2 linked regions of the Homo sapiens genome follow. The protein of the gene in region 2 interacts with the protein of the main gene of each other region in a biochemical or structural test. Each region holds a gene or a part of one and is shown on either strand. Other genes may lie near its edges.

Region 1 (3,500 bases), on a different chromosome or scaffold from region 2:
GACTTTCCAGAAGCCAAGCAGAGACAGGGATGGGGCCCAGACTCACGTGGCTGCAAAGCTCATCCCGAATCCCGCTCTATTCCACGTGCTAGAAGCAGTGGTGTTCCGGGAGCCTGTCGCGAGTGGCCGTTAAGAGTTCTAGAACGTGTTCTCCACGGATCTTCGGGGTAGTCCTGTTTGGATAATATCAACACTGAGAGGAAGAATTCCTAAATGATTTTCCTAAAGCCATGTCAGGACAAAACTGCACCAGAGTTAAAGGCGAAGAAGGCAAGAAGACCTTATTCAAGTCTATTATGATAGGAGAGAGAGAGAGATTCAGAGATTCAACTCCACTGAAACAAAGGATGAGAGGGTTTCTACAAGTTGGGATGGGAAGGAGATTAGGGCCATCATTGTCTGTTAATTGGCCTCCTGCAAAGAAACAGAGAGCTTCCCCCATCTTCATGACAGGAGGTGGTTGCACAGCTTAGAGCCAAGCACCCACCAAGGCTGGGCTCCATCCTTCCACAGGGACAGGAGATGACGCCATCTTGCCAGTGATCACATTTTGAAGGGACAGCTCCCAGCTCCTTGAGAAAGACAGTCCTGGGTTGTACAGCCAGCAAGAGACTTCTAGAAAGATTCAGGTATCAAATGGCAGAGAAAGAACATACAATAATACATTTTCTAAAGCAAATGCTCTAAAGATAGGGAGTTCCAGGTCCCAGAGGTGGGAAGAAGCCGGGTCAAGTCTCAGTCCAGACGAGGAAACCCAAAGGCTCAGTCCAGACGAGGAAACCCAAAGGCTCAGTCCAGACGTAGTAACCGGAAGGCTCAGTCCAGACGAGGCAACCGGAAGGCTCCGTCCAGACGAGGCAACCGGAAGGCTCCGTCCAGACGAGGCAACCGGAAGGCTCCGTGCAGACGAGGCAACCCGAAGGCTCCGTGCAGACGAGGTAACCGGAAGGCTCGGTCCAGACGACGAAACCCGAAGGCTCGGTCCAGACGAGGAAACCCGATGGCCTAGCCAGCCGCTGACTGACTGTTGACGGCAAGCCGCTGACCTTGAACTTCAGTGCTCAGGGTTTCCAGTCGTATCAACACACTGCGATCCACAAGGTCTGAGTGATTGTTTTTAAAGGAGCTACAGGAACTATCTGGGGAAATGAGCTATATATGAATAATTAATTTTCCTTTTGTAGAACTTACAACACATTCTTTGTGAGGCTAAACAGTGGAAAAACAATCCCTTGCTTGATCAAGCAGTCTCACTCCTCAGAATTGAATCTAAAGAAGAGTCCATTACAACACTGAGTTCAGAGGAATCAAAGAGCTATATGTATGAGAATGTTTAAGGATATTCCTTAAATTAATGATATTTGAAGAATAATCAAAAGACCATTGAGAAATATTTTAAAATCTTACAACATATTTTAAGTAATTCTACTATAAATTTATACAGTTATATGTACAAATTCACATTGCATGAAAGAGAATATTAATTATTGTCCTATTATTAAGGTTATATTAATAATTATTGACATATTTTTAAAAATCAGATGACAAAACATAGTAATAAGTTTATCTTTTAAATTCCCTTTATTGTTGCTATAATTGTTTCATAATAAATATAAATAGAAAAAATATGTAATTTTAGAATACAACCCTTTTTGTTTTTTTCAGGAAAGGGAACATAATAAGATGATGTCTTGCAGTCCTAGGTGGGGGGTGGGCTTTCTTCAGTCGTGGGGGTGGCTGGAAATGCTGTTCTGGATATTGCCAGAGCTGACCCTGCCAGGAAGCCAGGTAGCTGCAAAGCAGACATCAAATCGACATGTACGGCCTGGCTCAGCATTGCCTTAGGACGTGTGTCTTTATGAAAGCACGTAGTGAACTCATGTGAATCCGGGATGTGAGCCCTGCATGCTGGCCACTCTGTCATGTGAAGTTATGACAACATTTTTATCACGATTCCATTTCACAGCTCAAAAGTGGAGGCTCTGAGAGAGTGAATTGCTCAAGATCAAACAGCTAATACTGGGCAAAGAAAGGCCTCAAATTTTATCTGACTCCAAAACCTGGTGTTCTTCTATTATAATACACAGCTGCCCAAATATAGCAAGTGATAGGAAAGAAACACAATTGACCTTTGAACAATATGGGCTTGAACTGCGTGGGCTCATTTGTATGCCAATTGTTTTCTATAAGTATGTTGGAAAATTTTTTGAAAACAATTTAACAATTGTAAAAACCTCTTAAGACAAACTGTGTAGCTTAAAAATATCAAAACATTAAGAAAAAGTTAGAGATGTCGTGAATTCATACAATATATGTAGATACTAGTCTATTTCATCATTTACTCCTGTAAAATATAAATCAATCAATTTGGCACCATCTGCAGTGGAGAGGAATATAGACAAAGGTAAAGATGCAGCGTTCAATCATTCCTGCCCATGGTTAACTGGAGCACATAGTGTGACATGGGTTTCTGAGTAAAATGTCTTAATCATCCCTGTGGAAGCAATTTCTCTCTCCAGTAAATTGCAGAGCATGGTAACGAGTGATCTCTCAGAGTTCTTGTGTACCTTCCCTCCTTCGTGTTGAGTCCAGTAACGTAAACCTTGAATAACACCCCGGGACCCACACGAAGTGCCACAAGGGATGTTGCAAGTGCCCCAAGAAGCGGGAATATCACAGCATTGCCAAAAAGCTGAATTGTTTGCTGTGCACCACAGATTGAGGTCTGCAGCGTGGTTGCCACCATTTCAGACCATTCATCTCATAAACAGATGATGTAAACTTATGGTGTCAATAAATACAGTGCAGTGCTCTAAGTATATCTTCTCTTCCCTGTGATTTTCTCAATAACATTCTCTATTCTCTAGCTTACTTTCTTAATTCATTTATTTATTTAGAGATAGGATCTTGCTGTGTCATCCAGGCTGGTCTTAAATTCCTGGGCTCCAGTGATGCCCCTGCCTCAGCCTCCCAATTAGTTGTGATTACAGGTGTAAGCCACTGTGCCTGAATTCACTTATTCTATTCTAAGAATGTAGTATATTATACGTATAACATACAGAATATGTGTTAATTGACTGTTCATGTTATTAGTAAAGCTTCTGATCAACAATAGACTACTAGTAGTTAAGTTTTAGGGGAGTCAAAAGTTATGCATGAATCTTCAACTGCGTGAGAGTTGGCGCCCCTAACCCCTGGGTTGTTCAAGGCCCAACTATAATGAGCCATTCAATGGGGGATGTGCGTTCCCACATAAATATCTTCCAAAAGTTTTTCTTTATCAGTTTTGACATTTAAGTTCAGTGGATAAAGAGATACTTTCTGCACCATAAGGTCAATGATGAACATGTTGTTCTTGGTTTGTGACGTGTAACCCTATAGGTTCCAGGTATCCCAGCTGAAGGAGACGATCCAGAGGGCCCCAGAATTAAAGTGCAGTTTCTGTACTCAAGGCTCATTTAGGGTTAGCAACGTATGCACACTACACACATTCACGTACA
Region 2 (3,500 bases):
AGTGAAGATTCATGACTTCTACTCCCCTCCAACCTCAGACACTGGCAGTCTGTGCTCCCAGGACACTTGAGTGTCCTCCATTTGCCACCAGCCCTGAGACTGTTTATGTGCTTGGCTATTCCTTCACTAGGCTATAAAGGCAGAGACTGCCTTTCATCACTGACTCCCAGCGACTCCTCCTCAAACAGTGCCCCGCATTTGGCATGCGCTTAAACATACATGACAGAATGCAACGGATAATCACACATGATGTGGGAATTCTATCCAAGCAGGAACGTATTTGTAACACAAATGAACCTATAGCATTAATGAAGGTGTTTTTTTTTTTTTTTAAACAGACTGTAACTTCTTATGTCACTGTAAATTTGTTCAGTTTTAACGCCTTATGTGTTTGTAGAACAGAGTTGTGGGATCAAATCTGTCTCATATTCATCAGAAACTGCAACATGGCACATCTGTAAGAAACTGTATCTGGGGTCAACAACTCACTACATACCCAGCTCACGAGAATGTGACCAATCTGCTCCACTGTTCCATCAGGCTTGGTTGCTTCTCCTATTCTTGTCAACAAATCTGAAGTGATAAAAAAGCATAAACACCATTAACAGGTTTATTTAAAAAATAGGTCAGCACTACATTAGAAGTTTAGACTGAAAATTACATGCACCGCTGCTCTTTAGATTTAATGACAATTAAGTGGCACATCTAACCTTCATGCAGAGGTATGTAAGAGTCCAGATCACCAAATATATGTGTGAGTTCCTCTTCTGACATGATGGACAACTTTAACATGGGGTCATGATAGGCCTGTCAGAGGGGAGAAATGTGTCACAGAGAGATCATGTGAGGAAAACATGAGGGATCTATACTTGGAAACAAAGAGAATTAATTACATAAAAGCTAGCGTGGATTCTGTTTGCTACACATAAAATAAATTAGTATGTATTAATCCCCAAATAAACTCTCTTACTAATACTTGTATTTGAGGATGTGTCTAGACCTCACCTAAAAAAAATGTATTCACCAGTAGATATTTTCTATTCTTCTACTTCTAAAGGTTAAGAAAACTATCCTTTAGATTTTGTGAAATGTAATTTTTAAAAACTAGGGCATCTGATAAAAAGTTATTTACTGACCTTTCTTGCAAGTTTGAGATCCTCAATTAAATCCTGTTCACCTCGGGACATTTCATATATTGCCTAAAAACATCCAGCAAACATCAGAGGTCATTCCTTCGAGAAAGGAAAATTATATACAACTGATAATTACATTATTTGATGTTTTGAACGGCATTTTAAAAAGTAACTCAGTCTGAAAATTGTAATTCAGAATGGAATCTCAAATACAAGGTTGCCGTATGTTTGGTAAGTTTACCCTATTAGAGTTGTTTAATTTGACCACCATCCATCATTAGGTTTTGTTCACCATGTATTAGGAATTGTTGCTCAAACACAAAAATCCAAGTTAATTTTGCCATCGGCATCAATTTGCTGTTCTTTTGGGAAAACATGTACACTGAGTGCCAGCATACCTCCTGCCGTCTGATCTCCCTGGTGGTGAGAGACTCCTTCATGGTGATGTCCAGCATCTCTGACCACAGTGCACTGCTCCTTCTCTTGGCGGGTGTTGGGACTGTTGACCTGCTAGAAAACTTCTGGGCAGAGGCTGGGGATCTGTGGTCACCACGAAGGGTAAATGACTTAAAAAAGAAAAGGTGAACAAAAGAGAAAATAAGATTTGGAAGAAATAGAATTATTCCCATTTTCTTTTTTTTTAAAGTGAAGAAAGACAAAGTTCTGAGAATTTCTCAATGCAGAAAACAATAATTTATCCAAGTTTCCACCTACCAATCTTAAATATTTATCAGCTAAAATTACATTTTTGGGAATAAAAACTAGCCAAGACTATGCATTATAAGATGCAAATTAATATAAGATGCAAATTAATATAATGAGGCTACACATTGTTCTGGAACAATATTCCTTACTAGCATATTCCAAAAAGAAAACTATGTTTAAATATAATAATGCAAACTTGTTTGTACAGCTCAAAGACAACTACAAATTCCAGGCTTCTATAAAGTCCGCTGACTACATTACTCTTCCTCCTCTCTTTTTACCTGTATTGTTTGACCAAAACGTCTGACAGCTCCATTTCTTACAGGAGAGATTAAATTTGCCAAGGACGTGACACGAGCCAGAGGTCGAACTCTTTTATTGCTTGGCTCCTATAAAAACAAACCAGATGACACTAAATATATGTCTAGGTGCAATGATTTCATACAAACTTGGACAAAGTAAAGCCCTCTCACAAAACAATTTTTGTACATTATAAAATACAGAAACATGAAAGTAAGAGTTGTTCTTCATTGTCAAAACAATAAGAACTCTATTGAGTAGCAGTAACTTTTCAAAAAATAAGTGTGTAAGAAAGGCCAGTCAAATATTTCCAATAGGGGAAAAAATTAAAATTCAAACAAGGAAATTACATCCTAAAATCTAATGAACTTTTCAGTTTAATGCAGGGAATAACTTTTTTTTTTTTTAAAAAAAAGCCTTATTGTTATGAAAATTTTCGAACATACATGAAAGTGGAGAATGGCATAATGGATCCCATGTGTCTATCGAGGGGCCTCCACAGTGTCTGGTATAACAATTTGTTTCATTTTTGTCCCTACTTAAATGTTTTAAAGCAAATCTCAGACATTGTATCATTTCATTCTTAACTACTTCCGTTAGAAAATACAACCTTTCAATCAACATGTCTGACACTGGAATGGGCTGAAAAATATTGAAGCCAAGGCAGGGAGGAGTTAAAAGAGCACCCAGGCTCTGAAATCTGACTGGGCACAAATCCCGGCTCTACCACTTGCTAGGGCACACCCTTGGCATCAGTTTTCTCATCTATAAAATGGGGCTAAAAGTAGCACTTCTCTTATGAAGTTGTTGTGAAGATTAAATGAATAATATGGCTTGAAACAGTGCCTGGCACATACTCAGTTTGAGCTATTACTAACAGATTTTAGGAATATTTCCATTTACTACATAAACACTGGGATTCATAGATAAATTAGATCCTCTCTCAAACAGTAATTTATTAACTTAAAGGAAAGATATATACAAATCGAGAAGAAATAGTTATGATTCTACATGTTATTGCTTTTAAATAATAATATAGCAAACACATCACTTATTCAAGGATTTTGAAACTTTACAAAAATTGCATTATTCTAATTTTATCGCTAGAAAAATGGAGGCATACCAGTAGGTGACTCACACAGTTACTGAAATGAAGAATGCCAGATCATAAAACTAGCAGGTCTATTCTTTATGTCTATGGAGCATAACTATTTGTATTTTGTGCTTCTGACAATTGTGGCATACTTGACAAAATAATTTTGATGAGAATCCAGGAGGATATATAATTTAAAATTATATTAAAATTATCACTGAAAAATAAGACATCATTTAAAAATAACAGAAGAAGCAACTTTTTCTAAA

What was found. The genes of interacting proteins can lie anywhere in the genome.
Region 1: the proteins of NET1 (region 2) and SNTG2 interact in a biophysical measurement, tested with the Homo sapiens proteins (one large-scale study listed by IntAct).

The regions. Positions count from the first base shown.
Region 1 is NC_000002.12:1,261,849-1,265,348, forward strand, and holds part of SNTG2 (gamma-2-syntrophin), read left to right. Parts: intron 1-46; exon of another isoform or gene 47-173; intron 174-487; exon of another isoform or gene 488-570; intron 571-3,500. UniProt on the Homo sapiens protein: Adapter protein that binds to and probably organizes the subcellular localization of a variety of proteins. May link various receptors to the actin cytoskeleton and the dystrophin glycoprotein complex.
Region 2 is NC_000010.11:5,450,557-5,454,056, reverse strand, and holds part of NET1 (neuroepithelial cell-transforming gene 1 protein), read right to left. Parts: intron 2,228-3,500; coding exon 2,120-2,227; intron 1,700-2,119; coding exon 1,532-1,699; intron 1,233-1,531; exon of another isoform or gene 1,200-1,232; coding exon 1,137-1,199; intron 808-1,136; coding exon 711-807; intron 574-710; coding exon 497-573; intron 1-496. UniProt on the Homo sapiens protein: Acts as a guanine nucleotide exchange factor (GEF) for RhoA GTPase. May be involved in activation of the SAPK/JNK pathway Stimulates genotoxic stress-induced RHOB activity in breast cancer cells leading to their cell death.